2 linked regions of the Homo sapiens genome follow. The protein of the gene in region 2 purifies or fractionates together with the protein of the main gene of each other region. This does not show direct contact. Each region holds a gene or a part of one and is shown on either strand. Other genes may lie near its edges.

Region 1 (3,759 bases), on a different chromosome or scaffold from region 2:
CATATATGTATGTATGTATATATGTTACAGTGAGGGTATAATCACTTTTATATGTGTCATTTCTGTGTTTTAAAGGGTACTTTCACTTATAGGCTAATATTTTTTAAACAATCAAGAATAATCAAGGAAACCTTATTTATCTAGTGGATTTATGTTTGAATAATTTCAAAATTATTTCATCTATTGCCCCACTTTCCCAAGGCAGTAAAATTTAAATAAGGCAGATATGAACATACCTAAAATATAAAACAAAATAAACTCAAAGTATAAAGGAAGAAAGCATCTAAAGGTATGCCAGTGAAGGGGGAGATGTTTTGACACTAACAGAGAATTTCAGAATTTTCTAGATGTTTAAAGAACATCTAGTCTGATGTGATATCAGCTACAACCACTCTGGGGCTCAATTTTAGGGATGGAACCTAGTTGGTCTTAAAAGGTTTTTCTAATTATAAAATTCTATGAACCTATGAAATCAAGGTGCGAAGGGATGAAGTGGTCTGTCCTATGAAATCAAGGTGCGAAGGGATTAAGTGATCGGTCCAAAGTCACGTGACTGGCCAGACACACTGTTTAGAGTCTAGGTCTCCAGGTTCTGAGTCCAAAGGTTTTACCAATTCACCACTCACATTCTGATTCATTCTTAATTTTCTGTCTTTTTAAAAAATTCCCAGGCAGTGATGAGAAATTCTCTAGATGTAGTACGAAGAGCCACTTACAGGTGAATTTGTGTAGTTCTTTTCCACTAGTATGTTTCTGGCACAGTTGTTGATATGTTTAAAGCGATCTGGTCCTAGCAGAATCCCTCCATACCAGCGTGATACTACCACCATGACATTCTTCACATTCAAAATCTGTTATTTTTTGGAAGCATAATTAGATACATAGACAGACATGTATAAATATGAGTTTTAAAAAAGGAGAATGAAATAACCCATGTATAAAATTGCACATAAAATTTCCCAGTGACTTTAATGGTAGAGCCATATGAGTGAGTAGGCACTGAGTGAGATTACTAACAATTCAGGGAGTGAAATGGAAGAACAGAAGGGAATCTGGAAAACCATCACTGTGTTTCACAATGTCCTCAAACTCCCAGATTTGGGGCAACTGGACAGAGTGAAGGGGAGACCATGCAAGTAGGATTCTAGCACCTGGTGACTTCAACCAGAACAGCTAAGTTTAGGCAGCATTTTACCACTAGGCCAAATAACAACAAAAAAAACCCTGCTTCTGAACAAAGCTACAGGGGCTGCACGAGGCATCAATATCCCTGGTGCTATTAGTAAGGTTTCATCAGTTGAGATCTAGATCAGTCTCACTCTGTCACCCAGGCTACAGTGCAGTGGCACAATCTTGGCTCACTGCAACCTCTGCCTCCTGGGCTCAAGTGATCCTCCCACCCCAGCCTCCCAAGTAGCTGGGACCTACAGGTGCATGCACCACCATGCCCAGCTAATTTTTGTGTTTTTTTAGTAGAGACAGGGTTTCACCATGTTGCCCAGGCTGGTTTCGAACTCCTGGGCTCAAGTGATCTCCCCGCCTCAGCTTCCCAAAGTGCTAGGGTTACAGGTGTGAGCCACCATACCTGGCCGTCTTCATCAGTTTGACATTTGTCAAATGCTGCCCTTAATGTGAAGCCCACCAGTTTACAGGCCTGACCCACAAACACAGTTACTATTCAAGGGAAAGGCCTTGTTAGAAAATAAACCTTCACATACAAGAGCAGAAAAAACCAGGTAACTACCTTAGGAAAAAAATAATCCAATCCTAAAATTAATGAACAATAAATGATCACCAGACAGATGAAGAAAATCCAGCAGCATGAAAGAGAAAGGACAAGATAAACAAACAAAAATGGACCAGGAAAAATTTTTTTAGGGGTGAGAACATCTTAAAAAAGAAACTCTAATTAATATAATCAGAGAAATTTTAGAAGATATTGGAGCCATAAAACAGAACAGGATATTCTTAAAAAGGAAAAACAGAAAACAAGAAAGAACTCTTAAAAATTAAATATATGGCTGCTAAACAAAATTTCAAATTCAACAGAAATTTTGGACAACAGTCAAGAAAATGTCTCAGAATATAAAGACAATGAGATGGACAACTCAATTTAAAAAAAAAAAATTCTGGATCTATCCAGAAGTTCCAATATCCAACTAACCGGAGTTCCATAAAGAAAGAATAGAAAAAATAAAGAGAAGGAAATTGTCAAAAAAACAAAGTGTTTTCCCAAAGTTGAAGACAATCTTCTATTGTCTATGTCTTGAAAGCATAGCACTTCTTATTAATTATTTGCTTTCTGTCCCACATCCACTGGTTAAAATTTTCATTCAATCAATATTTTAACATCAACTACTAATTAAATCAAATATATCTTATGTTACATAGTTCAACTGACTTAGCTATTACTAAATGGAGCTCTGTTTTGTTGAGAAATTTTATGGCTTGTACAGAACAGGATTGATAGTTTAACTTACACCTACCTCCATGAGATGAAGAAGACGCCCACCAGCTGCTGTTTCCCCATCATCCTCACAATCCTGTAAGAAGGTCTGTTTATCCTCACAATATATTCTGCAAATACATGTAAGAGTATTACACTTTGAAACTAAAATATTATAATAAAACTTATTCCTCAACATTTGTGATCATTTTGATTACTTCCAAAATCAGCATATTCATTTTTTTAAATCCTTCCTGAAATATGTATTATATTAGATATATTTTCACTGACGGTTTACTATCCAGTATGTTTGCCTTTTTATATACTTGGGAAAGCTAGGAATCAAAGGCATCTCCTTTATATCAGAAATGTTGCTATTATGGGAAGGTGAATTTATCCATGTGACATTCCCCTTACTTCATTTAACCTTGAAGTAACAAGAGCAATCATTGAAAAACATTTATTGAGAATATACTGTATAAAAGCAACAGGTACTAAGACATATTATAAAGGAAGTAAGTGGCATGCATCTGTCTTCAAAGAGCCTTAAGATGTAGTGAAACAAAAAGCATATAAAAAAAAGATGAAGGCAACAAAACCAACATAAGGTAATATTTTATACTTTCCTCTCATCTTATTCCAGCCATCAAGCATTTCTCTATTTTCTTCTAAGAATGTAAAGATTTAAATTTTCCTCTGGATGGTTACTAATATTAGAGACAAATCGTGGTATTTTTATCCATTTAAACTAGAAAGCTATATCTGAAATAATAATGTAGGCCTACAATACAGTAAAATAAGCTTGGCAAATAAGTGCTAGAGAGAGAAAAAAAAAATAGTGTCAGTTACAGTATGCCATCTGGTGGATTTCTTAGGGCCCTACCAATGGTATCATGTGGAACTGGGTAAATGTAGTAAAGACATCCTCCCAGCTCTGGCCATAAAAAGCTGTAAACTTTTAATGTAAATACTAAAAGCTATAAAAGCTCATCTACACACCTAAGTCAGTTATGTTACCTTACAGCAGTCACATTCATTCATTCACTCATCCTTCCTTCCCTTCATCCATCCATCCACTCAATAAATATTTACTGACCATCTACTATGAACATTAAAGTTAAAATACTATGAGTACTTTTTTCTTTTTTTACATAGCTTAGATACAAGATTGTTGAAGCTGTAGCCACAGCCATAGAGGAGTGAAATAAAGAAAACAAATGAAATTGGATTATCAAATTCAGCTCCATCACTTAACTATGGGATCTTGAAAAAGCTAACCTTTTTACAGTGCTAGAATTGCTAACTAATAAGAG
Region 2 (4,727 bases):
AACACACACAACATCAAAGATAGTGTCTGGCACATAGTAAGAACTCCACAACTGCTAGCTAGCACTGATTGTTACATTACTATTTGTCTCCCCAGAACAGTTCAGCAACCTGAAATAAATCCACCTTGGTGTGGATTTGGAGTCTTTCCTCAAGTTGCCAAGGAACATGGTCTAATTTGTTTCTACATGCAAAAAGAAGTGGCCAGAGCGCAAATTCAGGCGATAGATAAGCACCCAGAAAGAAATGAGCCTTGGGGGGGTCAGAGCTAAATCTCGTGGAGTGCGAGTTTCAAGTCTAGGATCCTACCTCAGGTATCCAGGTACTTCTGAAGAAGCCCGGCTCTCTCACCAGGCCTGGTCTGTGAGGGTGTGGCCTTTGTGCTCAGGAGCTGCACCAGGAGCCTGCGCACAGGGAATCCCCGTTCTGCTCCTTGGGGCTCTGGAGTTTGCCACCGCTAGGCAGGGAGCTAGCTGCTCCAGGGGTGCCCCAGAATGGGAGGGACTGACCTCGGGATTTCTCCCGGGAGCCCTGGCGAGTCGACGTTTCCTCCGATGTGGCCAAGGCGAGGGACCCAGAAAAAGGAACTGCTCTGAATTTTGCTTTTTCCCAACTGGTACAAGGCAGCAGGAGTCCTCTGTAGGGCACCCGCGGAGAAAGTAAGAAAAGCCTGCACGTGGAAGGTCTGAACAGGGAGGACCTAAAGGTTGTACAGGGTTCCAAACCCACCCAACCTCCAAATGTTTCCCTATAGGGCTACTAGGAACCAGGGATCCACTCTCAGCCAAAGGCACCTCTGGGAGAGGAGCATGCACCTCCTCAGGGAGAGAAGGGTTAAGTGAGGTGCTTACTGGCCTTGGCAGTCACTGTGCCCCCACCAGGAAATAGGGGGCTTGATGGATAAAAGGGAGGGGAGGCTGCCTCTTCGAAACAGCCGACTAAGCCCCCTCCCGCAAACGGTCTTGCACTCCAGATTGCTGGGGTGCAAAGGAGAAAAGAGCCTCCCCCTCCTGCATTCGCCAGAGCATCTGGAGCCACAAGAAGAATCTACCTGGGAGCTGCAAGGTGGGCAGATCCACCTCTGTCTGGGCTCCCAGGTCTAAGAGCTGGGTCTCCCCTCACCCGAGGCCCACACCTCCTAGCTCTGCGTTTCCCTGCACGCCCTCCAGCTCTGCGCTCCCCAGCCTCCCGGGCGCAGCACAGGGCTCCCCCCACTCCCTCGCTCCGCCCAGGTGCGATTTGTGGAGGGGCGGGGGAAAGTGGCTCCCACCGCAGCCTCCGCTCCTGCGCTCTCCTCCAACCACTTTGGACCCCTGTTTACTCGCCGCGCGCTGGGGACTCCCCTCTACCCCGCACACACGTCTCCCCCTGGGAGGCAGGAGTCCCCTTCCTACACTGCGGCTGTGGAAACATCCTTGACTCCTGAGTGCCTGGCAGGGAAGGTGGGCGTGGGTCTACCGACCTGGCTGCAGAGGTGAAGGAGCGTAGAAGCAAGCGGGTGCCAGAGAAGAGAGCAGACTATGGTCCTCTTAGAGCTTGGAGAAGCATCCCTAGTCCACGATCTGACCATTCAGTCACCACCCAAGATGCCAACGCATTCAGATTCTCGCGGGGAGGTTTGTTTGCTTCTGGGGAGGAAGATCGCCCCATCCCAGGCACTCAGCAGCCTGCCTTCCCAAGTACCCAAGGGCCCGGCATTCCGGGGCTCCATTCCTTGTCTCCACGCGCCCCCAGGTACCCAGCCCCTCCCCCATCTGTATTTACATACCCAGGCCAGCGCCCTCCGGACTCAAATCCCTTTTCCTCTTCGTCAGATGGCCTCTCAGGGCTGGCCGCTCGCCCACATTAGCAGTACCTTTTCATTTCCCTCAACCGTGGGCAGATCTACCCGACCCTCAGCTTCCTCCTCCACCGCACGAGCAGCCTTTCCCTCCCTGAGCCACTTACTTCACCCACCCATATCTGCACTTGCAGTTCCCACGGCGCACAGCCGCAAGCCACTCCAAAGGTTTCATTGCCGAGTTGGGGGTGGCGTGTGCAAGGATGGACTGACTCCCATCGCGCTGGACGAAGCTTCAGGGGTGGCCGCAGCCATCCTCCATGTCCCACCTCTCTTATTTCACCTTCTCTGTCCCTACCCAGCTCCTAGAGGCAGGACGAGCACTGCTGGGTCCCAAACCCTCGCCTCAGGAGCCAGAGCTGCGGGGAGTGAAAAGTCGACTGGCAAGAACACACAGAGAGAAATGGGCAGATGCATATGGCAAGAGGGGCTGGGGGAAGGGCAAGAACTAAACCTGCAAGTTGCACAGCACGGGGTGAGCACCGCGCAGGGAAGGGGTCACAAAAGTTTGCAGACTATTGTATAGCAGCCGGCTGAACAGGAGCGAAGAGGGTCGACTCTCTCTCTCCAGGAGGAGGTCTCTCCCAGGGTCTGCGCAAAAGGGATCAGGGAGGCTTAGACAGGCACGGCTTAGAACTGGTGTAATAGTTCTCCTCTACTTGTTCCTTGGAGGGACGGCCTAGGTACCCGGGCAGAGGGATGATCCCGCGCTCTGCGAAAAGCAACAGGCGGCTGCACCTTACCTTGCGCCAGTCCCGGGCCGGGGTGGCTGCTCCATCCTCGTGGCTCAGGGAGGAGGCGTTGGGTGCGTATGCTTAGGGGTGTGCCCGCTGCCAGGGCTGCAGCGGCCGCCACCTCCAACCAGCTGCAAGCCGAGCTGCCCACCTGGGACCGGGCCGGCCCGGCGGGCTTGGCTCCCGGCGAAGGCGGCGGCGTTGGTGCGCGGCGGCTGGGGCGCGGGACGCAGGCAGTGCGTGGCGCGGCTGGCGTCTTCGGGCGCCGCCACCGAGCGAGGGTGCGGCCCCGGGCGGCCGTGCGGGGCACGACTTGGCTCGCGTTGCTGCGGCGGCCGCTGCAGACCCTGCTCCAGGCGCCGTAGCCTTGCAGGAAGAGCAGACAAAGACAGGAGAGAGGCAAAGCGCCGCTTGCCCAGAGATGCAGTCGGCTCAGTCAATAGAGGGAAATCGCCTCCAAACCCAGGCTGGGAATGAGGGAGGAGGGGCGAGGCGGCTGGGGACTAGAAAAAGCAGCAGGGAATTAACGTGACAGTCAGAGCCCAGCCAGTGCCTCGCCGGCGCTGCTCTCTCGCCTCGCGGTTGCGGGGTCCGGAATGGAGAGAGGAGGCGGGGGCTGAGCGTTGGCTGCCGGAGACCAGCTGAGGTAGGAGTATTAACTCCCTCTGCTGCTCTCGCCTGCCTTCCTCGCACCCCCTTACACAGCTCTACTTGCAGCAGGCTATGGCCCCATTCTTTCTCCTATTTTTCTAACTACTGAGATCAGAGCTGAATTAAGCTGGTGAAAGGAGCAAAACGTGCAAGGGATTGATTGCCCTCCTTGGGGGAAAAGCGGAGGCTTAAAATCAATTCGACAAATGAGTGTTTACTGGGTGCTGAGTACTGTGCTCCGCTATTGTGAGGGAGGGTTATGAATAAGGTACCCCCCTCCCGCCCCAGGGTCCGTTGTCTGATCTCAGAATCAGTTTCCCCTGCAGTTCTGGAAGCCCAAAGTTTCGGGGTTGAGTTGTGGTCCCTGATCCCGATCCTCAACCAATCTAGCTTTCTAAATCAGAAGAAGGTGGAATTCAATTTTCCTTTCTCCTTCCTGGGATGACTTTAACCTGCAGCCGAAATGGAGTCTATAGGCCCCTTAAAAAAGCGCGCGCACGCCAGTGTGTGTGTGTGCGAGCGCGCTCGCGTGCGCGCGTGTGTTTTAAGAGTAAGTCAAATTAATGGTTTTAGTGATGTTCTTATTTCATGATTTTAATTATTTACCATATCTGCAGTAGACACCAGTTTGGGGCAGAGGAACCCGCCTCTCCAGACTCTACAAATACCACCTTTTTTTCTAAAGCTTTTTTCCGCTACCCCAGTCCTCTGACTCGAGGCAGAAATCTTTCCCCTCTCTTTGCCCTCTCAGAATTTTATTTGCCAATCACTTGCGGAACTTATATATTTATAGATTTATCTCTTCACTCACATATGAGTATTCCCTGTGCTTTTTGTTTGTTTGTTCTCACTGCAACATCCAGCAGTGTTTTGTATCTAATGGGTACTCAAGGAAAGCTTATCCAGTTGAAGGTCATTTTCTCCTTCTGTATGAGCTAAATCTCAGTGTCTCTAGAATTAAAGAGACTCCAGGGATGGAACTTTTGATTTAGGGTGTGGTGGAGGGAACCACACATACAGTTAGACTCACAGCCCCTTTACTGGAAAGGTAATAAAGTATTTAATTCATTTTGGTCTCTAGACAATCAACCTTCTCCCACTGACCACCCACCTCTGTTTCCTGAATTCCCAAAAGCAAAAGAAAACCAAACTGCTAAGCAACTGCCTAGAGCAAGACATGTATGTTCAGCTGCCAACACCTAGAGCAAACCCATTCCAAGTGGAGAATGACCAAAAAATCTTGATTATTTCTTGACCTGTGTCAAGTATGTTGAAAGCCTGCCAAAGTTTCCTCATTTCTATTGAAGCACTCTTATTCTGGATGCATTTTAGAACAGTTTGAACAGTGTTACATTGCTCAGAGGTGAAGAAAATTGCTTTGTAGTTTAAGGATATTTAAGATTTGTTTGTTTGTTTGTTTGTTTTCTGTCCCACCTTCTACAAATTGCACGATAGATACCTCAGATCAGGAATGCTGCATGAAAAAGTATGTCCATAATGCAGG

Evidence for each region. The genes of interacting proteins can lie anywhere in the genome.
Region 1: the proteins of LRRC3B (region 2) and IMPACT purify together in Homo sapiens (affinity purification with mass spectrometry; one large-scale study listed by BioGRID and IntAct). This does not show direct contact.

The regions. Positions count from the first base shown.
Region 1 is NC_000018.10:24,446,911-24,450,669, reverse strand, and holds part of IMPACT (protein IMPACT), read right to left. Parts: intron 2,578-3,759; coding exon 2,487-2,577; intron 852-2,486; coding exon 717-851; intron 1-716. UniProt on the Homo sapiens protein: Translational regulator that ensures constant high levels of translation upon a variety of stress conditions, such as amino acid starvation, UV-C irradiation, proteasome inhibitor treatment and glucose deprivation.
Region 2 is NC_000003.12:26,621,092-26,625,818, reverse strand, and holds the start of LRRC3B (leucine-rich repeat-containing protein 3B precursor), read right to left. Parts: upstream 3,048-4,727; 5' UTR 2,582-3,047; intron 2,221-2,581; exon of another isoform or gene 1,767-2,220; intron 1,739-1,766; exon of another isoform or gene 1,461-1,738; intron 1,174-1,460; exon of another isoform or gene 308-1,173; intron 1-307.